Linked DNA regions of Homo sapiens. The protein of the gene in region 2 purifies or fractionates together with the protein of the main gene of each other region. This does not show direct contact. Each region holds a gene or a part of one and is shown on either strand. Other genes may lie near its edges. The genes, in order: HOXD13, SLC2A12, SLC25A23 and SFXN5.

Region 1 (7,644 bases), on a different chromosome or scaffold from region 2:
CATATTTGTTAGATGCTTTACAGCTCCATGCGAGGCCCCCTTGTTTAGACAGTCAAGTTCTTCATTGGGTTCTGTATGTAAGTTCCCACCCACGGCCACATTGATTCAGCCTCTTTTTGAGGATTGAGGAGATGACCACAATCCCAGACCCATAGATCCAAGGCCAAGAAAAGGAGGTGCATTTATGCCATCCGCGGGTCACTCTACTGATTGCAGCCATTTAAATGTCTGCATTGAGAGCTCAAGAAATGAAGGCATCCACGATCCATGAGGACACATGAGTTTCAAATTAAAGATTATGAAAACACAAACCTACAAAGTGTTAAAAACAAACAATTAAAACAGCAAGTGAAACACCCAAAGTTGGAAAGATTGTCTTCATTTCAATATTGATACAATCCCTATTTAATAAGGTGGCCATTTTTAAAGCCATCACAGTACCTTCAGCCTCCTGTTTTTAGACTTTCTCGGTGACCCCAGAGCACTGCCTGCCTTTCCACTTGCCTCAGGGCAACTGCTGAGAGCTAATGATTCAATTACCTAATTACAGGATATGAACGACTGAAAACCATTCTGTCCTAATGGATTATGAAGATAATCAGTGCTGGGAATGAACAAATAAAGTAATTTTTTAAAAAAACCCTTAAATCAGAATGGCACTTCTGAAGTTCATTGGGGGGCGGATTATTAAAAAATACTTCAAGTCCCTTTATACTGGCCTGGAGGGAGAAACAAAACATTAAAAACAGATATTTTAAAAACCCTAGGCAAGAACAAAACCAATAATAAACAAGTAAAAATCAGAACTACAAAGTCAGGTTGGGCAGCAGAAGGTTTTAGAGCCAGATAAGGGGAAGAGAGAAAAACAATTCACAAAATTTGCCACCATTGGCAGGGGGTGGGGGGAATTAAATACATATTCAAGTCTTTCCAAAGGCCTTTTGGAGACAACCGAATGGCTTCTAAGCTGTCTGTGGCCAACCTGGACCACATCAGGAGACAGTATCTTTGAGCTTGGAGACAATTTTCTTGTCCTTCACTCTTCGGTTCTGAAACCAAATGGTCACTTGTCTCTCAGATAGGTTCGTAGCAGCCGAGATACGCCGCCGCTTGTCCTTGTTAATGAATTTGTTAATGGCATACTCGTTCTCCAGTTCTTTAAGCTGCAGTTTGGTGTAAGGCACTCTCTTCTTCCTCCCTCTTCGGTAGACGCACATGTCCGGCTGATTTAGAGCCACATCCCCTGATACAAACAAAAGCACAAGAAAAATTAGGCTGGGATATTCGGAGCACCTAGCTGAGGATTGTGTGTGTGTGTGTGTGTGTGTGTGTGTGTGCGTTTGCAGGGGTGCAGGAAATTTTTAAAAAATGCCATGCTGTTTGGTCTTTATTATGTACATAGACATAACACTTACCTGTTATTAAAGAAGGATTATTTGCACTTAACAACAATGGTTAATTTGATTGATTATCATAGTTTCTCAAACCGGCATCTTAACAAGCTTGCAATTTTATGGTGTGGTTATTGGGCACGTTCATGAGGACAGTTTCTGCAAATGTCGGTTGTATAAAAACAAACTTACATACATAGACACATACCAACTCAGGTCTTTTGCTCAAATTTTGATTTCCCGCGTTCCTATGTTAGGAGTTCGTGAGCTTGATCTAACAAGCTTTAGTAGTCATCTTGGGGCAGTGATGTCTTTGAAAATGGGGGGACCCAACTCTGTCAGGTTTCTTAGGAAAAAGTTCTCTTTAGGAGAAAAGGGAGAGGCCCAAGGAAAGGGCACGCAGAGACTCTCAACTTTAGGAGAAAAACGTGTCTGCGCTGCACACAGGAAAGAAAGGGCAGTGACGGAGGCAGTTGAAATCAGAGGAGGAATTTACAGATTTCACACGAACTGGACAAATTTCCACTGGGTTAACCCTGGTCACGTGTGGAGCACAGGCACAACTCCCACTCCCAAGTAGGGGCGCATACTCTTAGTCCTTTCTTTTCTCCTTCTCTCTCCCCCTCCCTCGTGTCGGTCCCTTTTCTCCATCGCCCCTACCTGGAAAGGAAGATTTCCAAAAGTGGGACCCCTGTGGCTGGTCCTTGGTGCAGTACACCTGGCTGTTCCACCCGTTAGCCAGCGTCCAGGACTGGTACCCCTCCATGGAGATGTAGGCCTCGTGCCGAGGCTCCCCGGAGCCGAAAGTGGACACCATGTCGATATAGCCGGGCACGTGCTGGTAAGGGCTCGTATAGCCCTGGTAGAAGGATACCTCCTTGGCTCGCGCTGGCACCTCGTTGGCCGGTACGCTGCTGCTCGCCAGGCCTGACACGTCCATGTACTTCTCCACGGGAAAGCCTCCCAGCGAGGCGTGCGGCGATGACTTGAGCGCATTCTGCTGTAAGCCCACGCCGTGCGACATACGGCAGCTGTAGTAGCCGTTGCCGAAGTGGTAGCCGTAGCCCAGCGCTGGAGCGCTCGGGGGCGCTGCAGCGGCCGCTGCAGGCGTGGGTGCTGGGCACTCTTTGGCTGGGGGAGCCTCCGGGCGCGCCGCTACAACGGCAGAAGAGGACGACGACGAGGAAGAGCCCGTGCGCTCAGAGGTCCCGGGGTACGCAAAGCCGGAGGCTGCCGCCGCCGCCGCCGCAGCCGCCGCTGCCGCCGCCGCCGCCCGCCCCGAATGCGTCCCGGCGAACACAGGCGCGGAGAGAAAGCCGCGGCACTGGCCTGACGCCGCCGCCGCCGCCACCGATGAGGAGGAGGAAGAGGCCGGGGCGCCACCGGCGCCCCCGCCGTCTGCCCGCAGCCCGTCCATGTCCCAGCTCCCGGCGCGGCTCATGGCCCGGCCTGGCCCGGCCCCGGCCCTGGCCCTGGCCCCGCGCAGGACACCATGGCGCGGCGCGCCTCCTCCCTCCTCTCCTTTCTCTCTGGTTCGCTCGCTCCCGCCCTCTTCCTCTAGCCCTCTCTCCCTCTGTGAGCCTCCCGCCTCCGGCCCGCCTGCCCTCCAACAGGTTAGCTCATCGCGGGACGTTTATAAAAACGAAGTTCAGGTTGGGAGGGGGCCTGGGCCGGTCGGGGGGCCGCCTCCCGCCCCGAGGGCCCCCGCCGGGGGCGTGCCATTGGCTGCGCGCGGCCACGTGGGGGTAGGAACGCGGGGGAGCCTGGCTCCCGGCCCAGGCCTGGCTGGACCCACCCACTCCGGCCCCCACCCCTCTCCTGCCCCTTGCAGGGTCCACCTCCCATTCCCGCCCTCCCCCCCGACCCAGGCGTACGCGCTGCAGCCACCCCCACGAGTTGATTGCGCGACGGCCCATCCCAGGCCCTGTCTGCGACTGAGGCGGGCGCCAAGGCCTGCGCCTTGTCTCGGCAACCGCTGTTTTTGCCACCTCTCCTCGGCTCCCCGAGTTGCACAGCAAAATGAAGACGAAGGACAGAGATGATCAGAATGATGTGAAAACAGGCCCATTTTTTTATCCTGTTGCTGAATCCCTCAGTTAGTCGACTTCTAGACCCCAAATCCGAGTGAGCTAATTTGCCCTACCTTGTGCACTGGTACCCGGCAAAGGCATTTCACACAGGTAAGAGGCATTGGAGCAGACCCTTCCTATACACACACGCTGTCCGTTCGGAAAATGCCCATGAAGCGCCCTTGGGGCTGGCGGCAGAGACTTAAACAGATGAAAGACAGGCATCGGCGCAGTGAGCCTGACAATCTGTCCCAGAAAGAAAAGTCCATGGATGCCTACTCAACGCTCTTCGCCTCTACTCTTGGGCCAGCCGGGAGTGCTTCCGACCTGGGCCTCTCAGCTCCCGCGGGTCCTTCTTCGACCCGCAGAAAGACCCTGAGAACGGCGCCGGGGGAGAAAGCCACTCAGCCTCCCACCGTGAAACTTCTGTGTCTCTCCAGCAGCCGACCGGCCTCGCATTTTGCAGTCACCACCCACTCCCGCCCGTTTCTCACACCAAATTAATTGAAAACTTCACTTTCCCAGGGACCTTTGTTTCGCTTCCTTTTCCAAGCTGTCAACTGCAGAGAACTGAGAGGGGCAAATTAAGAGGGCGCTTGTTCCAAGCAAATTCGGATTTTGTGATAGGAGCAGCCCAGAGAAACGGTCTGACTTCAAGGGGTTAGGTGGGCTCAGGGCAGTGCTGGTGGGGCTAGGTCCAGCTCTGGAACCAAGCTGCCAGGGTGTTAGGGATTACAGCCCTGTCCCTCATCATCCCTTTCTGTTGCTCCTCAGCCTCAGAGCTCCAGCCCACCATCCCTCAATCTCAGCAACTAATGGGGCACCAATGAGAGTCCTGCTGTGACTTTGGGGCTCTGCCTTAGGAACAATATTAGATCCAATGAGCCCAGGGTTCTGGGGGTGGATATGGGATCCTTCAGAGCCCATTTGGTTCTGTGGCATGCACTCCCCAAGCCAGCCCATCTCCAAGAAAATCACTCCCCTAAGCCTGTGATTGGTGAAAGCTTGTCACCCAGCACCACTGTTCCCCGACCAAAGATGCCCTGAGTAAGATGAGGAAGAGAGCCAGGAAGGCCCTCCTTGGCCTGGCCTGGCATTTCAGGGTAGGCTGCTGGTGTTAGGAGTGTTGACATGCAAAACGCAGTAACCATAAAAGGCTCAAATAAAGGGGAAAGTTATGAGAGGGGTGTTGGAAAGGAAAAGCAAGAGAATTCGTTTCATCGTTTTGAAGTTCTAGACATGTTCATGATCAAATTTGAGATGGGAGGGGCCTGAATTTACAGGAAATCATAGGGAATAGAAGTTTGCTGATGAGAAAATTTTTTTCACTATTTGGGAAAAGAAGGCAAAAGTCAGCAATGAAAGTTCAACCAGCATTTTAAAAAGGCCAACTGTGGCGAGGCGACAGGATTGCTAACTTTTAAAGAGGGTTTGGCTGGGTCTTTATGAAACAATTTTGGTACCAAACCACCAACCATGGGCCACCATGAAATGCTTTTATTTTCCCTTTGTCTCATTTTTTCTTCCTCAGACAGAGAAAACATGAAGATAGTTTTAACTTTTTATGACTCCAAAAAACAAATTCGTTGAAATATTTCTAAGATATAAGTAGAACCAACAAACTTTCAGTCTCTTAAAATTAAATATCCCTGTGGTTTTGTGCCTTGGGCTTCTGCTTCATTTTCTCACTGATAAGTACATTTTAATGATCAATTATGTGTTTAACAATAAAGTAAAATGAAAATGGGAAGAATGTGTCAAGTTTTGTTGATTTCAAGCAGCCCATCACTTCTGGCTGAATTTTCCATTCAGCAAATTAAGTTGTGCAGGAGTGGGAGAAAAATCTGAATTACTACTCAGGTTGAAAGGGATTTCTCAATGGTGGCTCTGCTTCCAAAAGCCCTGTGGGACCCTCTCAGAGCAGGGCAAAAGTTTTCTCTGTCCATCCTAATGGTTGTTCAGAAGCCAGGAAGATTTTGAATTAGGAGCTTTGCCCCTTGATATCCTGCTGCTGAACCTGCTTCCAGCATAGCCTTTGGGGTCCCAGCCCTGTGGGAGGGCTTTGCCCTGAGGAAAGGGGGTCTGACTTTGTCCACTTGGGCTCCAAAGCCCAGCACCTCTGGACAAATTCTACTGGCTCCTAGGGCTGTGGTTGAGTACAAGGCAAAGTCAGGGCTGCTTTGTTTATGAACTAATGAGACACATAGTTTACAAGCCAGGGATGCCAGGTAGAGGAGGAATTTTGAGGCTGAATTTGCAGAAACATTTCATTCAGGTTTAAACTTACTGGGAATCAGTTTCTTTAGGTGGCCAGGAACACAGACCAAGCCTTGTGTTTGTGTGTGGGTGCATTATGCAGGGGTTTTTAACAACAGAAATAGGCTTTGTTAAGTGAGAATCCTTGGAGACTACACATGTCTCCAAACGTGTGTCTTCTTCAGTGAAACCAGTTTTGCCGCTGTTCCTGATTTTGGTGAAAAACTCAGGATGACCCTATGGTGCCCAAAGTCCCACTGTATTCTCCCATCACTTGCTCCTCTTCCTCCTTTTCTTCCAGAGGCATCCTTTTTAAGCATCAGTGCTGTTCTGGAAGTCATATTCTCTCCTTTCAACCTAGTAGATGATCTTTCAAATTTTGCTCTTGTCCTGGTTTGGGGGAATGGGCAGATACAGGCTGTGATTTAGATTTATTGAAGTTGCTCTGCTTGCCAAGACAGCAATGAGCTCAATTAACCACATAATCAGTGGCCATTAAGGCCAGGATCACAGGATTCTATCAGAGTGGGGTCCTGGGGACTCCTTTGAAAGCACTTGTCTTGATGGCCAAGATCAGGAAGTGCAGGACACCCTCCTAATTAACTTGTAAGAAGCCAAATATTTGGTGTAGAAATAGAGTCTTAATTCCAAAGTAAAATCTTAAGTCTAGCAGAAGTGGCTGGACAGTGTTCTTAACCAAATCTGTGTTCTGCCAACTTTGGAGCTAATTTTCCCTCTCCAGGCAACACCCAGTTTTACTCAGCCTGGAGATATCAAAAGAAACAACAACAACAACAACAACAACAAACCAAACCTATTGTGAAAAAAGGGGACCCTAGCAACAGCTAGACAGTGGAAGCCACATTTGAGTACTTTCTACCTTTGAGACATATTCCGTTTGGGTTTCACAACACGATTAGGCTTTATCAAATGAAAATCGTTTGCAGCAACAACAGTTCCAAACCCCCTCCAAATCAGAAACATTATTTGGTGGAACCAGGTTTGCCTCATGCAGGACAGCGGGCCCTTCTTTGGGATGGAGAGAACTTCTCCAGCCTTGGAAAAAATTAAACACAGTGAGGATTCTTTCCTTTGAAGAGAAGCACTAATCTCACTGTGAAAGGGACGCAGGAGGGTGGGGCAGGAGCCAGAGGCCCAGAGTAACTTGTTGCCTTTTTTTGGAAAATAAAAGCTGGGACCCTAATTTGCTGAAGTTTTATCCGACATTTCAAGGTGAGGGGTTGTCCTTGGAATACACTTCCCTAGCAAAACTACTGGGAAGTCCAGTAAATTCTCACTCTGTCGGTAGCTTGAGATAAAAGAAAATGTCTGTCTACCTACCTATCTCCATTCCGCAGAGTCCATTGTCTCTATGGGGAATCCACATTGTCCTTACCGGCAGGGCAAAGGGATGAAGGTGAGGAAAGTGCCCAAGCACGAAGGGGGGAGCCGAAAGGGAGGCGGAGGGGCAGTGTTCGGCTCCACTTCCCGGCCCGGCGGCGCGCAGTTCCCCACGCCTGGCGCTAGATGTCCCTGCAAGTTTTCCCGTGGCGTCTGAGGGCACAGGAACTCGAGGCAGGCGATGGGTCTGCGTAGACCGAGCCCAGGAAGAAAGTATCCCCCAACTCCCGCACCACGACCTTCCTCCGTGGGGCGCGGGATTGCGACGGGAGTGGGAGGAGGAAAGACAGAAGCAACCGGAGAGACCCGGAAGGGACAGAGAGCTAGAAGCTGGCCTGCCGAGGGCTCGAAATCTGAGTCTTCCCTTATGCAGCGAAACCTGCACCCGTGGAAACCGCACTTCGCCTGAAGACAGGGAGCCCGAGGCTCGAAGCCCAGGCTTTCGCGGTCCTACTGTCCCACTGCACCCTGCAGCCCCAGCTCTCGAGCAAGCATGCGTCCCAAGGCGGGACCGCAAGTTGTCGGCC
Region 2 (7,023 bases):
CCATCAGGCAAGCCCCATAATGTTCCCTGTCACTCTCAGATAATAAAAAGTCCTCTGATGAGTTTTGGTGCCAATAAGACTCTCCTTCTAGAAATTCAAATGTTTAGTCTGGTACAATAATCAAATCTTGGAGCTCTATTTAATTTAGAACTTCTCTCCATCCAGCTTGCTTCAGGCCAGGACGCCCAAGTCAGAGAAGGGAGAGTAGCCGGCTTCCTCATGCCCACCTGGCTCCATTTCCTACCCACTCATTAGCTGTGATTTCTGACTCCTCCAAGGTCAGGGGGAGAGAGCTGAGGAAACAGCCCAGTCCTACAGCAGGTACACCTGGGCTCTGGCACTGAGGCTTCTGTGCTTGGCAGATGTCCAGAGCTGGCTCTCTTGTTGCTGCCAGGCAGGTGGCCCCACCTCTGCCCCTGCGGTTTGCATTTCTTGGGCCTGTGACAGATACCAGCACCTCATGCCCCTCACCCTATGCATGGGGACCATGGCCCAGCTCTCCTAATGTTTCTGTGAATCCTTTCTTCCTTGGCTGGAGGTGAGGAGGCAGCACGTCCCTTTACTGTCCTGTTCTGCTGAGGTAGGAAATGGTGCTTCCCAACCACAAATCCCGGCAGGATGAGGGCAGGGAGAGATCAGGGTGCTGGCACTCAGATTCAATGGGTTTTTGCTAAATGTGCTGTCCGCCACCCACTCTTGCCTTTCTTCTAGTGCCCTGGCTGGTGCTCAGCGAGATCTTTCCTGGTGGGATCAGAGGACGAGCCATGGCTTTAACTTCTAGCATGAACTGGGGCATCAATCTCCTCATCTCGCTGACATTTTTGACTGTAACTGGTAAGAAGTCTTTGTTTTCCTCTAATGTCTTTGGTCCTCGTAGGACAAATGTTAGGGAATCACACCCACCTAAAGACCATTTTTTCGTGGAAATTTTCAAACACACTTAGAAGGAGAACGGCCATGACCCTGAAGTACCCATGACCCAATTTACAGTTTTGAATGTAAATCTATTTATAACCCCACCTGCTCTTCCCCTACCCAATTATTTTGAGTCACATCCCATATGCAATGTTGTTTTTTCTGAAAAATTTCAGCATAGACCTTTGACATTCAAAAACATATAACTACAATGTCATTATCACACTTAAAAATATAATCATCCCATAGTATCAAACACCTAGTCTGTGTTCATGTTTTAATTGTCTTATAATTGCTTTTTATACATGATTTGAATCATGACCCAAATACATAACTTACAAGTCACTGAAATATGTCATAATTTGTAGGTTTTGTCTCCATCTCCTCCATCTCCTCACCCCCACTATACCTTATATTTTTAAAGAAATTAAAAATCTATTAAAAAACAAATGATTTATTTCATAGAATTTTCCAGTCTGAATTTTGTTGATTATAGTCATGTCACGTGCCCCTCTCTGTTTCTCTGTTTTTTTTTTTGTTTTTTTTTTTTTTTTCCGATAGTCTCTCTCTGTTGCCCAGGCTGGAGTGCAGTGGCATGAGGCATGATCTCGGCTCACTGTAACCTCCGGCCCCTGGGTTGAAATGATTCTCTTGCCTCAGCCTCTGGAGCAGCTGGGATTACAGGCACACAGCATCACACCCAGCTAATTTTTGTATTTTTAGTAGAGACAGGGATTTCACCATGTTGGCCAGACTGGTCTTAAACTCCTGACCGCAAGTGATCCACCCACCTCAGCTTCCCAAAGTGCTGGGATTACAGGCACGAGCCACCACGCCTAGCCCTCCTCTCTGTCTTTTATGTTTCTTGTAAATTGCTATTAGATTTAGATAGAGGCTTGAGGAGAAAGAGAAACCAATCCACAATAACAAAAGTCATGTTTAGGTGTCAGGCAGAATTGCTTGTAATAATAACAAACTTTTATTTTCAAAAGGGATCTCATCAAATTTAAGGATAGAGAGCAGCAGAAGGGAGATTCTTTTTTTTTTTTTTTTTTTTTTTTTTTTTTTTTTAAGACAGAGTCTCACTCTCTTGCCCAGGCTGGAGTGCAGTGGTGTGATCTCGGCTCACCACAACCTCCATCTCCCAGGTTCAAGTGATTCTCTTGCCTCAGCCTCCCAAGTAGCTGGGACTACAGGTGCGCACCACCAAGCCTGGCTAATTTTTTTGTATTTTTAGTAGAGATGGGGTTTCACTTTGTTGACTCAGGCTGGTCTCGAACTCCTGACCTCGTGATCCACCTGCCTCAGCCTCCCGAAGTGCTGGGATTACAGGCGTAAGCCACTGTGCCTGGCAGGGAGATTCTGTAATAAGGTCAGGCTCATTGTTACTTTCCACTGAAGCCTGAAATTCAACTGCATTGTATAGAAAATTTGAGGATCCCTATGTCGGAAATAAGGCAAGGCATAAAAAAATGTTACAAGCAAAACAAAAAATGGCTGTTTGTGTGTTCCATTCAGCAGCCCTATCTAAAGGAACCACAAATTAGATTTATATATTATAATAAAATAACCCAATATTAGGGATCAAATCAGAAACAGAAGCATTCGCCTTGTTTTCCTAGCTCCAACTTGTAAACATGAAGAAAGTAAGAAGGGAAACCCTTTGGGGATTACAAAGAATGATAGAGCTAAAATAAATAAATAAAGCCTAAATTTATTTTTTTAAAAACGATAGAGGCTTGAGGAGATTTACATGTCATTTTTTGGTGAACTCTGTGGCAGCTGCTGCCGTGTGAACTGCCAACAGGAGGCACATGAGGTCTGGTTGTCTCGCTGTTTGTCATTGTTGGCCTCCTTTGATGATCATTTCCCAGACCTACTCATTATGTCATTCCTTCTCCATTTTTATCTGAAATACCTCTCTAAAGAGAAATTTCTTCTCATTAGCTATTTGGCTATCCTGAAGTGTGGATCATATAAGAAAGGTAAAATACGTGCTTGAAACTTTCTCTTTATTTTCTAGTTTTCAAAATAATGTGGCAGTTCCCCAGTATCCACGAAAACTGACCAATGAGTCGGTTTCTCTTTATTTCATATATAGATGAGGAACATGCAGCATGACTACAATCAAGAAAATCCAGACTGTGGGAAGTTCTATGAAACAAATAACCTAATTTCTTCATTTCATATATATTGTCTTTATAGATACAATTTTCAAAAATGGATGTTTGCTGAAAAGCATGCATATATATAAACACATATATACACATATACACACACATACATACATATATATTTAGTATATCCACTTTTGGAAATTAACCTTTGGGGTTACTATTTAAGCGTGGTTTGGGTTTTTATATAAAATTTTCAAATGTTCCTATCCTACCTTTTGAGAAGTAGCTCAAGATTAAAGGAAACAAAGAAACTGGTCCTACTCAGATCACACACATAAACACATGCCCTCAACCTTCACATGTGCACACACGTACTCAACACACACACACCCTCCATCTGCTATTTGATGTGGAGAAAGAGAAATATAAAAGAAAAAATGGAATTGATGAGGGATGGAAAAGATGACACACATCTCTGGGAGGGCTATAGCTAATACACTGGAGGAGCTAGTGAAGCTTTAGAAGTTCCGTATGGGCTTTTAGAACAAATGTAGGAAAACAGATCCACTTAAAAACAAAAAGCCTAGAATGCTCTAAAACCTTTAGATGACATTTAATTGGAATGCTTGACATTTCCTACTTATTTTCAAAAATAAATTTTCCAAGTGTAGGACACAGGGATCTAAAAGACGTGAGGTTCTACTTGGCAGTAAGCCCTTAAACACCAACATTTTTTATGCAATTTCAGCTGTATCAATAAAAGCAGACTGTTCCAGATAGACAAATGTACTCTGCAGTGATCATGACACAATTGTAGCATTGCATTCAGCTCTGAGTAAAACATCTCGAGAGGGCCATTTAAAAATTGCAGTGTGTTCGCTGAAGGAGGGCAACCTGAATGGCGAGGGCAGTAACCTATGCTGTGGGAAGAATGGTTGAAGAGCTCAGGATGTTTGACTTGGACAAGGGGATTCTCAGAGGAGGGCTGAGGTGCATTCAAATATTTGAATGGCTGTCACGGAGAAGGGGTGGGGAGAGCTGATTCACTGTGTGTCCTTCCACAGGACAAAGCACAGCCTCTGAAAGGCAGATTTAGGATCTAAGCAAGGAATAACTTTTTAGCAGACGCAACTATTTCACAGGGCAGTAAGAGGCTTCGTGAAATGGTGAGCTCCCTGTTACTCAAAGTGCTCAAACAAAACTGGGGACAATTTGATGAGACAGCCTTTAGGGTTTTGACAATTTCTATATTCTGGTTTTAAGCTCCAGAGAAGGAAGGACACCCAATTCTACAAGGACTTTATTAAGCAATCAGTTGGGCCATACCCTGTGCCAGCTAGAAAAGCAGAGAGAGACAGGAGTTTAATTAAAATTGCCAAAAGAACTGCAGTGCGGTTCCTCCTTCCTGCTTCTCCCAACCTCAGCACAACTCACCGACAAGTAGTTACTATGCTTCGATTCTTTCATGCTGCATTTACAAACACTGCCTCAGTACACAAGTGCTCAGTCAGTTTTCCTGCCTGACCAACTGTGGTTTGTGGCTGCAGCTGTTAAAGGCTATTTGTAAAATCTTGTTGTTCGTAGTTGACTACTCCTTGCCACACTAGACATTCTGCTGCTGAGTCAGGGGCCGCCACAATGCAAATGGCAGCCTCAAGTGCACTGTGGGGGCCACTGCTGACCACTGAATGTGCCTTGACTTGGTCCATGACTACAAAGGGACTGTATCTTTGGCTGGAAGCGGTCAGAGGAAAAACTAGGTTTGCAGATGAGAGTCATCAGAATCTTGAGGATCCTGCTTCTTGTGATGCATCTTGGCAAGTTGATGGCTTTTACTGGATCCATGATCACTTTTTTCTCTGAACCCAGGAAGAAACATTACAAATACACTGCAAGCTATTAAAAATGATGAAATATTGCCAGCATGAAATGATTTATTCACATCAGAGCAAAGAAGGGTGAGCTCATTCCAAGAAAAATCCATCTGTACAAATGTCATTAAAAATGTCCACCATTGGGAATGATAGCAAGAGGGGGAAAAAATTGTCCACCGAACAGAAACTAAACTGCTACCATGGCGATTCCCAAGAGGGGAACTGTGGAGAGGGAGAAGAGAGATTTTACCTTCTACATCATATGTTTCCATGTTATTTGAGGTTCCTTTTTTGCATGTGCTTTTTTATATTAATAAAGACACATTGCCATTTTGAAACAGAAAGACATGCCCACCAAGAAGATGACATTGGGTGTAAATTGTGATAGTTACAAGACTGCTATTTTCTTCAACAGAGAAAACTAAGGTAGTCTGTAAAAGTAACACCTTCAGAGCTGGCTACATTTTAAATTTGTGATTTCTATTTTCCTGGATACTGCTGGCATGTTTGAAAATACATATGGTGCTATGTATGCCCTAAGTGGCTGTTCACAAATGGGATCAAAGCTACACAAAACACATTTCTAATCAATTTCTTTTGTCCTTTATAGATCTTATTGGCCTGCCATGGGTGTGCTTTATATATACAATCATGAGTCTAGCATCCCTGCTTTTTGTTGTTATGTTTATACCTGAGACAAAGGGATGCTCTTTGGAACAAATATCAATGGAGCTAGCAAAAGTGTAAGTATTACATGCATTGGTTTCTGAACAATACTCTTTGGTCAAAAGTGCAGCTTTTATATACAGCAAAGGAATAATATCTGAAATTATTAGATATTATTAGATTAGGACATTCCCTTTAGCGTAAGACTATGTCTCAGTGCATAATTCCAATTTCCCTGCTTTGTCTTTAATTTGGGTGATTCAGCTAAGGAAGAATAACCATTTCTTCCCAATGAATGAAGCTTTTTTTTTTTTTTTCAAACTACAAAGTGAATGTATTTGATTGGCAAGTGCAAATTTTCACTTATCAATGAAATATTGTACTGAATTTGAATAAAATCTTTACAATTGGAATGTTTTTTAACGTTAGCCTTTTATAATTATCATCAAACTGTAATGCTATTATTCATTACTATGACCAACCAATATGTACGTACAAGGTTACAAGTTTTTTCCTTTTATACGAAACAAAAACAAAAATACATCATTGTAATTAAAAAGCATTAAACCATATTTTCCTTTTTTGTAATGTAATAATTTTTACTAGAACAAAGTTTAATATTTTCACTGTCTGCATTTCTTTTCGGAAAAAGAAACTGTTACTATTGTTGTTTTACCTGATTTTTTCCTGAAACTAATTTTGTTGTACAGAGGATGTGAATCTTCTGTGCTACTGATTAAAACTATCTCATTTAAAAAACAGTTTATTTCCATAGGTTTTTGGGGAACAGGTGATATTTGGTTACAGAGTAAGTTCTTTAGTGGCGATCGTGAGATTTTGGTGCACCCATCACCGGAGCAGTATACATTGAACTCAATTTGTAGTCTTTTATCCCCCACCACCCCCCAATGCTTCCCCCACCCAGTCCCCAACCAACGGGTGAACATTTTAAAGCTCTACTCAATCACCATCTCAGAACTTCTTCCGCCTCTCTAGCTCCCCCCAACAGGTTTTCTTTGTTTGGGGTTTGGGGTGGGTCCCGGAAGTGTAGATATACCATGTTCACACTGGGCTAGGAACTTGGGTCTCAGCCTTTCCATCTCTATCAGACTTAGAGCTCCTTCTCTGTGCCCTAAACACTTGCTAAGGCTAAGATTAGCAGAAAAACTCTCAGGCTTAACCATCTACCGTTGTTCTAAATATTGCACATTTAAGGTAATTTTAAGAAAGATAAGTTTCTTATATGAATAGGCTTTTAGAAAACTGGTTTAAAAAATTTCACAAGGAGAGATTGTTTAAACAATTTAACTTAGAAGTGAAACATTTAATTTAGAAGTGAGTGGCAGAAAATTCCCTTTCCTTTTTTAGTAGCTCTAATTGCCAAAACCATGTCCTGGGGGAAGAGGTGAGACATAGGGGCTAAGAATGAAGCAGAACTTGTTACTCTTCCT
Region 3 (7,023 bases), on a different chromosome or scaffold from region 2:
CACCTCGGCCTCCCAAAGTGCTGGGATTACAGGCACAAGCCACTGCTCCTGGCCGCATCTTATTTCTACTCACAACTCTTTTTTTTTTTTTTTTTTTTTTGAGATGGAGTTTCACTCTGTCACCTGTGCAGTGCAAGAACTCGGCTCACTGCAACCCCCATGCCCCGCCCTGGGTTCAAGCGATTCTCCTACCTCAGACTCCTGAGTAGCTGGGATTATAGGTGCCCACCACCACGCTCGGCTAATTTTTGTATTTTTAGCAGAGCTGGGGTTTCACCATGTTGGCCAGGCTGGTCTTGAACTCCTGACCTCAGGTGATCCACCGGCCTCGGCTTCCCAACGTGCTGGGATTATAGGTGTGAGCCACCGTGACCGGCCTCTACTCATACCTCTTAATGGCTTCCTATTTTACTTAGAAGACCCTGTACCCTGCCCTGATCAGTCCCCCCCAGACACCTAAGACTTCCACTCCTCCAAAAGGCCGTATTTGTTCCTGCTTCCAGACCTGGGTACTAGATTTGTGCATGCTCCCTTGTGATAATACGCCCAACCCATGGCTTCAATGTCACCTTCTTGGAGGCGTTCCTCAACCCCCCTCCCGCCCACTGTTACTGAAGATGACAAATCCTGTCTTGTGATCTTCTGAGAGCTTTTCTAGGAGCTGAAACTATCTTATTTGCTGGTTGATTGCCTGCCTTGTTTATGGGAATGGGCATTCCAGGATGGCAGGGACCATGCTGGTCTCATTCAACACCACAACTGCCACAATCCGCACAGTGTCTAGCACAGAGTAGATGGTCAGTAAATAGTCACTAAGCGAATGAGTGAACAACAAAATGGAGGAACAAATGAATGAGTGAGCAACGGTCTTGTCTCATTTGGTTGTCTACATGCCAGGTGCTGGGGAGGGCAGGTAAAGATGGCAGGAACAGAGCCTATTAGATCAGAATCAGCTACATAATTTGCAGGATCCAGTGCACAATGTAAAAGGGTGGGGGTCCCTTGTTCAAAAATTATTGGCCAGGTGTGGTGGCTCACACCTGTCATCCTAGCACTTTGGGAGGCTGAGGTGGGGGGATCCCCTAAGGTCAGGAGTTTGAGACCAGCCTGGGCAACATGGTGAAACCCTGTCTACTAAACATACAAAAATTAGCCAGGCGTGGTGGCAGGCACCTGTAATCTCAGCTACTCGGGAGGCTGAGGCAGGAGAATTCCTTGAACCTGGGAGGTGGAGGCTGCAGTGGGCCGAGATCGCGCCACTGCATTCCAGCCTGGGCGACAGAGTGAGACTCTGTCTCGGGAAAAAAAAAAAAAAATTAAGAATTTCAGGCCTGGCATGGTAGTTCACACCTGTAATCCAGCACTTTGGGAGGCCAAGGCGGGTGGATCACTTAAGGTCAGGAGTTTGAGACCAGCCTGGCCAACATGGTGAAACCCTGTCTCTACTAAAAATATAAAAATTAGCCGGGCATGGTGATGCATGCCTGTAATCCCAGCTACTCGGGAGACTGAGGCAGGAGAATTGCTTGAACCCAGGAGATGTAGGTTGCAGTGAGCCGAGATCGCGCCATTGCACTCCAGCCTGGGCGACAAGAGCGAGACTCCGTCTCAAAAAAATAAATAAATAAATAAAAATAATTTCGAGACAGCAGTAGCAGAGCGTTACACCAAGCACAGGGCCCTTCCGAGCATGGGGCTCTCTGCGACTTCACAGGTCACATGCCCATGAAGCAGGCCCTGTCTTGCATACAAAGATTTTGGGGGGAACGCTTGGGGACATCCAGGACCATGCTAATTGGGGGAGACCTGGTGATCCCACTAGAAGGTAAAAGCAACAGATGAGGTCCCTGGAAGAGAAACAGCCAAGAACTGTCTGCACCTGCCTGTGTTGATAAAGGTCTCAAGATGCTGGTGATTAGGTGTGGTTCTTATGGTAACAGCAGATGCTCAAATGGGCAGGCCCTGAAGATGACATTGGCTTAGAGACCGTGGCTGGGTCTGATACTTGCTTCGGGGAAGTTGGGTGTCTTTGAGACTCATCTTTGCCTGCCTTTTTTTTTTTTTTTTTTGAGAAGGAGTCTCGCTCTGTTGCCCAGGCTGCAGTGCAGTAGCTCTGTCACCAGGCTGGAGTGCAGTAGCGGGATGTTGGCTCACTGCAACCTCCGCCTCCCAGGCTCAAGCAATTCTCATGCCTCGGCCTTTTGGAGTAGCTGGTATTACAAGCACACATCACCATGCCTGGCTAATTTTTGTAATCTTTGCCTGATCTTATGTTTGTCAGCTAGAGTGGTCCCTGACTTTCAGGTGACCCCGGAAGGCTGAGCTGCTAATCAAAAGTAAGTGGAGAAGTGGGAGAGTCCAATACCTGGAAGGGTTCCCCAGGATTCCCAGGGCCAAGGTGCTCCTCACCTCATAACTGCCTTTCTCTAACTATAGCAGGTCAACTGAGCCAGCCCCAGGGGAAGGGGAAGGGGTGTCCTGTGGGTAAATCCCAGAGGGGAGCAGGGAAAGAGGAACGCGCTGCCCACAGACCTCGTAGACGGCCAGGTCGATGCCCGCATAGGGGATGATGCCCAGCACGTTGGGGAGGTAGCCGCGGTAGAAGGCACGGGGCCCCTCCCTCTCCAGGATACGCCTGGCGCAGTCCAGCAGCCCCTTATACTGGCCCGTCCGGCGCAAGGTCAGCCGCGTCTTCAGCACCTGGGGAGAACCTGGTTATCCCTGGAAAAGCTGTCCCACCAAATCGCTACATCCAGGAATGAAGACACCTAGAAATAGCTACTCCTGAAAACAGATGCCCTGAGAACAACCGAATTTTAAAAACCACCTACTCTAGAATCTTCTGCTATCCCCAAATCCCTATACCTAGAAATAGTTACACCTACCAAAGTGCACACATGTGGCACCACCAGTAACTGTCTCCTGATATCTTTCTTTTATTTTTTGGTCATTTCTGTAGAGATGGGGACTCGCTACTTTGCCCGTGCTGGTCTCGAACTCCTGGGCTCAAGTGATCCTCCCCTCTCCATCTCCCAAAGGACTGGGGTTACAGGCATGAGCCATCATGCCCAGACCTCCAGTATCTTGTTCCCTTCTGCTTTCATATCAGAAACTGTAACTTTCAGCAAGCACACAGCCACTAGAAAGAAAAATGACATTTCCCAGATGCCCTGGGTATGTGGCTATGTCACTATGTCCTAGCCAAAGAAATAGAAGGAAGAGAAAGAGGTACACATAAGGTTCAGAAAGCATCCTTAGAGGTGGGGAGGTGTTTCCTTTTTTATTGCTTCTTCCTTCTTGGCTGGAGTGTGGAATGTGATGAACGGAGCACAAGCAGCCACATTGGTCCATGAGGTTGTGTAACAACAAGATAGACAGAAAGAACCTGCATCGCTAACACTCTGAAGCTACCATCCCAGCCTGAAATGCTCATCTGTAGACTTTGTTGATGTGATTGAAGTTTTTTTTTTTTTTTTTTTGAGCTGGAGTCTTGCTCAGTTGCCCAGACTGAGTGCAGTGACATGATCTTGGCTCACTGCAACCACCGCCTCCCAGGTTCAAGCCATTCTCCTGCCTCAGCTTCCTAAGTGTCTGGGATTACAGGTGCCCACCACCATCCCCAGCTAATTTTTGTATTTTTAGTAGAGACGGTATTTCACCATGTTGGTCAGGCTGGTCTTGAACTCCTGACCTCAGGTGATCCACCTGCCTCGGCCTCCCAAAGTGCTGGGATTACAGGCGCTAGACATCGCACCCAGCTGACATGATTTAAGTTTTCTGTCACTTTCAGAATCCAAACAATACACTTCATAACCTGAAACCTGAAATAATTTATCTGAAAACATGTAGCTAGCACAGTCTATCCTTAGAAGAGGCATATTCATAAACAGTTGGTGACACCTAGACACGACGTCCCTGGGAACGTGCACCCTATCCTTAGAAGATGCATATTTATAAACAGCTGGCTCCTATGACTACCATCCAAACAAGGATAACCGACACTACCTTCCCCAGAAATTATATCTCAGTTGTAATACCCAGACAGGCTACACATGAAATTGCATTACTCTGATGAGCTATACTCCAAATCAGAGAGGGACAAAGGTAAAATCCCAATGGATATTGTGAAATGCAGAGTGAGATGGGTACAGCAGGCCCCCCACCCTGCCATGGGGCCTCCGCTGGGGTCCCTCCTTCTCACCTCCATAGGGTAAATGATGGTTTGGGCTGTGGCACCAGCCAGGGAGCCAGCCACGAAGCGCTCCTGCACATGCAGTGTCTCCTGCTGCCCCAGGATGGCCCTCTTGATCTGAGGCGGGGAGACACAGGGATGGGTAGGACCATGGGGGTTGAACCTTCCTTGCACTCCACTGTTCTCCTGGCTTCCAAAGAACTGGCTTGCTGCAGGCATTCATGCAGAGGAGCAGATGCCTGATCCTGGGGACCTGTGTTCACCACCCACCCCCAAGCCAATCCCGTAAATCTTTATGTACAGCCCAGTCTTCCCTATGGCAAGCACATTCCTCCCTGTACCTGCCCTCACCTGTTCATAGGCCATGAACTTGATAGCTGACTCGGGGGCAATCTTGAGTACATTAATACCATTGCCGCGCCACAGGGAGCGGATGCCTCCCTCAAGGACCATGCTTCGAAGCCCCCCAAGGATGTTCAGCCGGTTGGTCTTTGAGGCATGGACCTGAATGGGGAGACAACAGCTTGGAGGTCCCCTCCCAGGTGTCAGGCCTGGGGGAGGGGGCAGGTCTCTCCAGAGCCCCTCACCTGCATGAAGACCTTGAGGCGGTCCAGAGGGGCCGTGCCTGTCCGTGACACGGCACCTGCCACTGCGCCGGCCACCAGCTGTTTCCACCACATGCCCGTCAGCTTCTCTTGCTTTGAGAACTCGTCCGGCACTGTCAGGCACTCGCCAATGTCCAGGACCTAAAGATACAGGTGTTGGGGGTGTCATGCCATGGTGGGGACAGGGAGATGTGACTCAGTCCTAAATAGGGGAGTCTCCTCTATGAATCCTAGGATACCCTAGAGTCTGCCAATGACTCTTGCTTGGAGACCCCAGAAGAGTCCTGTTGGGTCCTACCAGGTGTCACCAAAGCATCTAACCTAGCAGCCTCCTTAGAAGATCCCAATATCCTACTAAATCCCACCAAAGGATCTGCCAAATCCCACTAAAGGATCCTATTCAAGTATCTGCCACATAAAGATCCCTCCAGGCTAGATGTGATGCCTCACATCTGTAGTCCCAGCACTTTGGGAGGCCCAAGTGGGAGAATCCCTTGGGGCCAGGAGTTCAAGACCAGCCTGGGCAACATAGCAAGATCCCCTCTCTACAAAAATTGGCCGGGCATGTGCCTGTAGTCCCAGCTACTCAGGAGGCCAAGATGGGAGGATTGCTTGAGCCCAGGAGTTTGAGGCTACATTGAGCTATGATCACACCACTGCATTTCAGCCTGGGAAACAGAGTAAGACCTTGTCTGTAACAGCAAAAAAAGATCCCTCAGGGCAAATGAGATTCTACTGAAGGATCCCACTCAAGGGTTTTCCATATAATGATTCCAAAAGATCCCTTCAGGGCCATACAAGATCTTACCAGGCACCTCCCCTATAAAGACCCCAGCAGATCCTTCTCAGGGACCCACGAAATCTCACAGGGATCTCCTCCACATGGAGTCCCCGTGCAGGAATCATTTCCAGTCTAGAATTTCTAACCAAGGTCCCCATGAATCGTCTGGGGTGGGAGTCTCTGGATCTCCAAAGAGGTTCTCACCAGATCCCACAGACGGATCCCCCTCCAGATGCCATCAGATCCTACCAGACACATTGCTCATAGACATTTCACCCAGGAACTAGGGATCTAGAGCAAACCCCCACTACCCTCTCTAGTGGCTCCCATTGGATCCTCTGAAGACCGTGTTTTTTTTTTTTTTTTTTTTTTTTTTTTGAGACGGAGTGTGGCTCTGTCACCCAGGCTAGAGTGCAGTGGCACGATCTCGGCTCACTGCAAGCTCCCGCCTCCTGGGTTCACGCCATTCTCCTGCCTTAGCCTTCCTAGTAGCTGGGACTACAGGTGCCTGCCACTACACCTGGCTCATTTTTTTAATATTTTTGTAGAGACGGGGTTTCACCATGTTAGCCAGGATGGTCGCGATCGCCTGACCTCGTGATCCGCCCACTTCGGCCTCCCAAAGTGCTGGGATTTTAGGTGTGAGCCACTGCGCCTGGCCAAGACCGTGGTTTTTGAACGATTCTGTTCAGCCGTAGAATCTTTTATCCAGGCAGAGAACCCAGCAGAAGAGAGCTGTGTGGGTGGAAGGTGGGAGGCCTTGTACCCCATCTGGTGAGCTCTTTCTTCCCTGTACCCGCAACCCCCACACGCTGTCCCCAGAGGCCCCGATGTAAGTCTCAAGGGCTGCGCTTCAATCAGACAGCAGAGATGTCCCAAATGGGACCCTTGAACCCTAAGTGGAGGAAGAGAGGAACAGACCCTCATCCGTCAGCTGCTGCCAGTGCCTTCTCCTTCTGGAAAGTCCTGGTCCAGCCCATCCAAGCCCTGGGGAGATCGGAGCAAGGCCCCCCTGGGGAAGAGGGCACAGCCTTCAGCTGGGGAAAGCCACCCCCACCTCACCGTGGAATGCTTCCAGAAATACAGCACGTCCTCCACATTTTCCAGCGAATGCAACAGGAAGTGGTCGCGCCATTCTTGCCAGTCAATGGTCATTGTGCCGTCTCGGTCCATGCTGGGGGGAAGAAAGGGGGTGGAGGAGGACAGGTTCAGTGCCTGGGGGTGGGCTAGGCTGGGGTGAAGTTCTGCTAGGTTTTGCAGTTTGGGAGGTTCAAGTCCTCATATCAACCCTATTAGAGATGTAGCAAATATTACCATCATTTTCTTTTTTCTTTTTTTTTGAGACGGAGTCTTGCTCTGTTGCCCAGGCTAGAGAGCAATGGTGCGATCTCAGCTCACTGCAACCTCTGCCTCCTGGGTTCAAGAGATTCTCCTGCCTCAGCCTC
Region 4 (7,023 bases), on a different chromosome or scaffold from region 2:
CACCACAGCCAGGTAGCCCCCTCTACTCACTGGACCCAGGGACTCCATAGAGGCCATGCCTTCCCGCCTTGGGCTCTGGGCATTCCTTCCCCATCATTGCCCTCTCTCCAAGCCCCCCAACCTCCATCTCACAGTTTCTTTGCTGTTCTCCCACAGTTCCCCATCTTTGAGCTCAATCATCTGAACAAAGAAGAAACTGAATACCATGTTGCCTCCTAGACTGCCATGTCTAGCTATGCCACCTAAGTCTCCTCCACTCCTAGTCCCCTCTGCACTCACCCACTCTGGAGACAGCCCCTCCTCTTTGAATCGCCCAAGTCCTCAGCTTCCATGAAGTTACTCCATCTGGGTTCTCCCTGTGCCCTTGGCTGCTTCTTCCCCTTCTTGATGGTTTTTCTTCCTCCTATAGTGGACCACATCCCCTTTCTCAGCTTCAACTCCCCCCCATACACTGAAGGTTCCGTATCTCCAGCCAAACTCTCTCCCCAGAGCCATCTGACTGTCTAGGAATCATCTCTTGATGTTCAATGTTTTAGACTTAAGGGGCATTAGGAAGACTTAATACAGTAAGGTACACCGAGCTCCCAGCATGCTGCCTGGTCCAATAGATATCTGGCAAATGGTAGCCATTATTATTATTTGCAGTTTGACCCTCAGTACCATTTTAATAAGCAGAACTACTAATTTGAAAAGAGCAGATAAAACTCTCCCCCAGGAACTGAAGGAAGGATTGAAGTCCTTGCCTCAATCTCTGGGGTTAGTGAGTTGGAAACTCCACAACAATCACTGCAGGCCAGCCACTCTAGGAACTAGTTCCTAAATTCTACCTCCGAGTCCCCTGATTAGTTAATTGGTGTTCCAGTGATTACTTCTGTTGACAACCTTGGTGGCTTTTGGCAAGGCTGGGTCAGCCCAAGCAAGTCCAGACTTATTGTGGCAAATCCCACTGGCTTCTGGGATGTGAGACATGATCCCTGTATGGCAGAAGAAGCACCTTGTTAGGGAGAATTAATTGGGAGAGTGAATGCGGAAACAAGGCCCTCTCGGCAAGTTGGCTGAAGGCTTTGGTGCCATGGGTCCCAAACAGGGCTCAAAACACCCCATAATGCCCAGGCTAGCCTGCATCTTGTTGGGATCCACATAGCTGAGGAGGGAGCTCTGAAAATCATGCCTGTACCCTCCCTTCCCAGAGGAACAAAGACTTAACATGCAATGACTATCTTCTTCCCAATCTAGAGAAAGAGGCTTGGATTGCAATAAGAGGGACTTTGGTTAAATATGCAGAAGAACTAACTCCCATGTCTATTTGAAGTAGGCATGTGGGGAGAGGGGAGCCTGGGCTTTGACCTGCAGCAGCTGTGAGACCAGGGTGGCTCACTTTCCATCATTGCTTTGCAGCCAGAGCTGGAGGCCTGGGTGGGTGAATGGTAGGCATCTCCCCATTATATGCCCCAGAGGAACACCTGCCAAAGACCTACAGCTCTTCTAGACCGTTTCCTACCACCCACCACAGTGCAGCCCCCAGCTCCCTCTTCTCTTGGCTGTCCCAAGGTAGGTAAGGTGGTTGACTAGGGAGAGAAACTCAGCCACAGGAAATGATCAGGTGTAGCACTTCCTAGGGGCCTGGACTTGGAGTGTGGACCTCTGGTGTTTCCTCTCCTATCGGCACCTGACTTCTGCAACCTTGGGCTGGTCCCATGGCTTTTCTGGGCCACCATTTCCCCAGCAAAGTCAGTAGCAAGGTAAACTGGATGACCTTGAAAATCCTTCTAACTGGGAGGGTCTCTGATTCTGCATCAGTATTTTCTTTGCCCTGGGTCCCTTCTCTGTGCAGGCAGGTGGAGTTATGACAGCTACTAGAAGCACAGAGGTACCTATAAACACATGGGTGACTCTGGCCCTGGCCTAGGACCCTGGGCTCAGGCTGATTGCACAGACAGATGCAATGGCTTCAGGGAGTGCTGGGCTGGGACAGGGATGTCAGAGACCACTGAGAAATACCCGCCTTCCCTCTTCAGGGCTACTAGGCAACCCAGAGCCCATGGCTCCATTTGGAGTCCCAGGCTGCAGGTTTCCCAGGGTGAGAGGTGGGGGAAGGAGCATCCCAGCACCCATGACAAGGCTGGCCGCTGTGGGCATGAGATGAGGTCCTGCTAGCTTTAATCTTGGTGTGCGTTGAATGGTGTCCCCCAAGACAGGAGCCCCACTCCCACAGAGTCTCCTCCTCAAACTCTGGGGCTCTGGAAGGAAGCCACCCCATTTCTCACCTTCCAGGGCCTAAGGCGGGTCACCCCCTCCTCCTGCTCTAAGAGCCTGGGTCTCCAGCCCTCGCAGCCCCAACAGCCCCGGCCTCTTGTTTTCACTTCCCCGACTTGTCTCCAGGAGCCCTCACCTCTCCTCCACCTCTCTTGGGGCCCTGCCTGAAGCAGGTCCATGGTGAAATCACAGATTCAGAAGCGCCGCTTTCTGGCCACAGCCCTCGCCTTCTTGTGAGCTCAATGCAGACACCTCCTGGGCCCTCTTGGGTCTGTGCCTTCCCCTCAGCTTAGCTCCCACCTTCACTCCAACCCAGCGTGGATCCCGTGGTCCTCTGCTCCTCCGTGCTGTCACCCATCTCTCAGCCCCCCTCACCCCCAACCTGACAAAACCCCAGAAGAAAGGATCTGTGGCCCTCCCTGTACTGGCCCATAGCACCTCCTGGTGAACAGGCCCGGCTGCACTCCCAGACCACGTGCTGCTCAGCCTCCTCACCTCTCATTCTCCCCTGGATGTCTCACCCCTTCTCTGTGTCCTCAGACCTCTGACTTCCTGCCCCTTCCCCACCCTACTCTCTCCTGTCTGCTCAGTCACAAGAACACAGGAGCCATTGGAACAACTTCTTCAATTTTCCTACCCCTGAACCCTACCCCCAGCAGCATTTTCCTCCCACCCCACTCCTCTTCCACCTACTGAAGTGGGGAGGGGTCTCCCCGTGCCAAGGCTGATCCCCTCGTCTGTGCTCTGGTCCCCCCTCCTCTTCATAGACTTTCCCAAAATCGTCCTGTCAGCGTCCTCGACATCTCTCCTGGTGCCTTCTCTACTGCATTTACGCAAGCCCCTGTCTCTCCCATTTAAAACAAGGACAAATACATAAATAAAAGCCCCTCCTGATCCCACATCTTGTTGCGGCTGTGGACCTGTCTTTCTCATTTTTTCCCCTCACCTGTCACCTGGATCCCTTCTCTGGGGACAGGGTTTGGCTACGTTGCCTGAGACACTAATGGATACTCTGTAATCTCATGGAGTGTGACCTCTCAGGAGGGTCTGACCCTGTGGATGCCCCCCACCCACCCTGATCACACATGGCCCGGATCTGCCCTCACCACCCTGGCTGCTTGTCTTTGGACCCCGCCAGGGTGGAGGCCTCACCCACCACCCTCGATTCCAGCACTGTTGTCATGCTGGTAGGCTCTACTTCTATCCCTCCAGCCCAGGCGTCTCTCCTCATTCCAGACCCAGAGCCAACATCCCACAGGCTCCTCAACCCCGCGTGTCCATCCAACTGACCCACTGCCCTCCCTCGAACCTGCCCCCGCCTGGCTCCATCTCATTAAGCACCTACATCTGCCTGGTTGTTCAAAACCAGAAAGCCAGTGCACATCCTCTGGCTCCCGTTCCCTCCCACCACATACAGCTCTTCATCGAATCCCGAAGAAGCCGCCTCCTGACTCCCTCTTTAGGGACCCACTTCTCTCCATGCCCACTGCCAACAGCCTGGTCCAAGCCGCCATCACCGCTTGCTGGATGCCCGCCACAGGCTCCTGATGGTTCCTTCTCTGGAGCTCTAACCCAGCCCCACGCGGCAGCACAGGGGCCGCTCAGAATCAGGCATCTGTGGTCTGCCCTGCACAGCCCTTAGGAGGACATTCACCCTCTCTGTTCTGGCTTCCAAGTTCCCAACACCACCCAGCCCAGCCCCTCATTCCCAGGCCACATCACCTTGCTGCACTCCCTGGTTGCGCTGCAGACTTTGGTCAGCTCTTGGACATGGCGTGTGCTGCCTCACCTCTCAGAACCTTCACACCAGGTGTCCGCGGACCTCACATCTCCCCCCGCCACCCCTTTTCATCTGGCCAACTCCAGCCACGCTCCCAGTCCCAGTGAAATGTCACTTCCCTCTAGGCTCAGTTTGGTCTGCTGTCTCCTTCCACACCCAGTGGAGCTTCTCCCACCCTAACGCTCCTGGCTCCTCATCTGCTGGCCTCTGTTTAATCACCCTGTTGACTGCGTGACCCTCACTCTGAGGGCCAGAGCCTGGGCCAGCCTCATTCACGGTTCCAGCCCCAGCGCCTAGCATGGCGCTAAGGAGTCGGCACGGTATGAGTATTTGTTCAGAAATCACCAAACAGCACCCCCTGCCCTGCCCTGCCCTTGAGCCCCTCCCCACTGACCTCTGACATTTGCGGGAAGAGGCTGATGGCCAGCGGCAGGGCCAGGCCGAAGGCTGCCAGGCACACGAGGCTTTGCACAGGGAGGAGCAGCCGGGGGCGTGCCTGCAGGAGAGCCGTCCTGTGAGGGAGAGAGGAGGGAGCCCCATGAGACCCGAAGGTGGGGTGGGCTGGCTGCCAGCCACCATGCTGGGTCCCACTCTGTCTCTGGGCCCAGGAAGCGTGGTTCCGGGGCAGTGCCAGTGTGCAGCTAAACAGATATAGCAGAGTTCTGTCTTTGGGACCTTTTCCCGATAGGTACCCCTATCCCAGCGGGTATAGACCCCTATCCCAATGTCTTGAAGGACGTTGCTGGCTGAAACCTCAATTACTCAGGTCACGAATGAGTACTTTCGGGGCACCCACCCGCCACGCGTCCAGCCCCGTGCCAAGAAGGCCCTATGTGGGAGAGACACTCAAAGAGGCTGTCGGCCCCTGTTCCTGGGGAGACACATAGGGACGTAAGATCGCTCTCGAGGGCAGCACGTAATTAAACAGCAAAGAAACCAGAGTAGGTGCCAAGTTCAGGGGAGATGACAAAGCACATACATATGGGCACACGCCAGCCAGGAGGGGGTGATCCTCCTCTATGTGTGAGAACAGAAGACACCCCACTGGCCACCTTGTCAATTTCAACCCAAGGGCAACAGAGGGTGCAATGACTCGTCCAAGGCCAAGTCTGCAGGAGGCTGTCAGAGCTGCTGCCTGGACCCCTGGCTCCCCGAGGGTGCTGTCACCCCAGCTGGTCCCCTGTGCCAGCTTCATCACCAACACAACACAGCTGGCACCCTCTTCCCATGGCTGGCTTCGGAGCTGGTTTCCTGGGCAGGGGAGGGGGCATGATAAACCTCCCTTTGGGGCCCAGGCTCCCCAGACAGCGTGGGGACATACCAGCTGGCCAATGTGCCTGCACTGTGTTCATCGGAGCTTCCTGTTTTGCTCAATACAGCAGGCCCTTCAGCGGGGACCACAGCATTCCACCTGGGGAGGCCTGGGATGACTAGACTATTTGCCAGGGGGTGTTGGGCAGGCACTAAATCTGACCTCAGTAACTGTTAGCCTCCAAGTGACAGGCTCCTGGTGTGAAGGGGAAATAATCCAGGCTCTTATCCGCCGCCCCCAGCAGGGCTGACCATGCCACAGGCAGGTAAGGGGCCCTCCTAGGGGCAGAGCCCCAATGTGGCGGGCAGTAAACCCCATATACTGTCACCTCTTGAGACAAGAATCCCAACAGCAACTGGCCCTGAGAAGACAGCAAAATTGGGAGTAGTTTTCAAAAGTTAAAGTGCATCAGCTGGACTGGGCAACTGGTTAAAAATGCAAATGCCCAAGGGTTGCTTACAACCATGAAAGCCTGATTCAGTGGGCACTGGACCTGGAAATGTGCATTTTAACCCTCCATGAGTCTAAAATGGTGATCCCAGACCACACTTCTGATAAACCCTGGCCCTGGATGTTCCTGCTCAGGTATTAATAAAGATCCCATTACTTGCAAATCCTATGCAAGTAAAAGGGTGAGCCCTGGCCTGGCACACAGTAAGTGCTCAGAAATTATGTGTCATTATTGCTGTTGTTATTGCTCATGTTACCTGCGGGAAGGTAGGATCCTGGTAGCCCACCTGTCTTCCAGTCCTTCCCACAGGCCCAGACCGCAAGGTTTGTCCAGCTGCTAAATCCGGCCTGAATTAAGCTATTGGAAAGGGGAGTTTCCACAGGATTGAGCAGTAGGACCAAGGTGCCTAAATCAAGCCCAAACCCCTCTGATCCTCCAATCCCCATCCAGCACCCCCACCCTCTCTCTCTACTCCATGCTAGCCCATGCCCGCCTGGACTTCCTTAGGGGTCGTGGAGGGGCTGGGAGTAAGGCTGAGAGGGCCCTGAGATGAACTTCTCAAGCAAGATGAGGAGCGGGGGATACAAGGCTCATTCTCCAAGCTTCATACAGAGTCTGGAGGCCCTGCTTGGAGGAGGCTGTGGAAGGACGGGGCTGCCCTCCTGTTCCAGTGGCAGTGACTAGAGGGTGTGGAGTCCCTGGAAGCACAGCCCCGAGGGTCCCTGCCCACAGCCCTGAGAGCAGTGAAGGGTGAGAAAAAGAAAGAGAGACGCTACCCCCGGCAAGTGAAGAGCAGGCCATGGGCTCAGTCCTTGGGACCTGCTGGTGGGGACACTAGACAGACCCCCTTTCTGTGGGGCTGTGACCAAGGCTCCTCTCTCAGGGTGGCTGGCTGAAGTACTCAGTGGGAAAGAGGTCCAAGAAGTCTGAGGCCTGGGCTCCCAGCTCAGGAAGGAGTCAGGCCTGAGGCTGAAACAGGAGCCTCGGAAGCCCCAGCCCAGAGCAGGCCTGAGAGCGAACACAGTAGGACAGGGGGAAGGGAGGGGGGAGGAAAATGGCAAGGAGGGAAGGGAAAGGCAGCTGGGGGAGTTAAAATATGTAGATGGAGAGATGTGCGAATGCCTGGGAGAAAGGAAAGACCTGGAGCCCAGGGAGTAAAGGAAGCTGGGGGAGCGGACTCAGGGCTGTGGCCTGGGCCCGGAGCCAACTCAGACCCAGCCTGGT

What was found.
Region 1: the proteins of SLC2A12 (region 2) and HOXD13 purify together in Homo sapiens (co-immunoprecipitation; 3 studies listed by BioGRID and IntAct, with this or other methods). This does not show direct contact.
Region 3: the proteins of SLC2A12 (region 2) and SLC25A23 purify together in Homo sapiens (affinity purification with mass spectrometry; 2 studies listed by BioGRID and IntAct, with this or other methods). This does not show direct contact.
Region 4: the proteins of SLC2A12 (region 2) and SFXN5 purify together in Homo sapiens (co-immunoprecipitation; 3 studies listed by BioGRID and IntAct, with this or other methods). This does not show direct contact.

Annotation. Positions count from the first base shown.
Region 1 is NC_000002.12:176,088,079-176,095,722, reverse strand, and holds the start of HOXD13 (homeobox protein Hox-D13), read right to left. Parts: upstream 3,003-7,644; 5' UTR 2,833-3,002; coding exon 2,052-2,832; intron 1,244-2,051; coding exon 993-1,243; 3' UTR 1-992. UniProt on the Homo sapiens protein: Sequence-specific transcription factor that binds gene promoters and activates their transcription. Part of a developmental regulatory system that provides cells with specific positional identities on the anterior-posterior axis.
Region 2 is NC_000006.12:134,000,623-134,007,645, reverse strand, and holds part of SLC2A12 (solute carrier family 2, facilitated glucose transporter member 12), read left to right. Parts: intron 1-711; coding exon 712-834; intron 835-5,516; coding exon 5,517-5,649; intron 5,650-7,023. UniProt on the Homo sapiens protein: Insulin-independent facilitative glucose transporter.
Region 3 is NC_000019.10:6,449,780-6,456,802, forward strand, and holds part of SLC25A23 (mitochondrial adenyl nucleotide antiporter SLC25A23), read right to left. Parts: intron 6,753-7,023; coding exon 6,641-6,752; intron 6,314-6,640; coding exon of another isoform or gene 6,173-6,313; intron 4,939-6,172; coding exon 4,780-4,938; intron 4,697-4,779; coding exon 4,544-4,696; intron 4,310-4,543; coding exon 4,202-4,309; intron 2,701-4,201; coding exon 2,533-2,700; intron 1-2,532. UniProt on the Homo sapiens protein: Electroneutral antiporter that mediates the transport of adenine nucleotides through the inner mitochondrial membrane. Originally identified as an ATP-magnesium/inorganic phosphate antiporter, it also acts as a broad specificity adenyl nucleotide antiporter.
Region 4 is NC_000002.12:72,956,701-72,963,723, forward strand, and holds part of SFXN5 (sideroflexin-5), read right to left. Parts: intron 4,549-7,023; coding exon 4,431-4,548; intron 404-4,430; coding exon of another isoform or gene 280-403; intron 1-279. UniProt on the Homo sapiens protein: Mitochondrial amino-acid transporter. Transports citrate. Does not act as a serine transporter: not able to mediate transport of serine into mitochondria.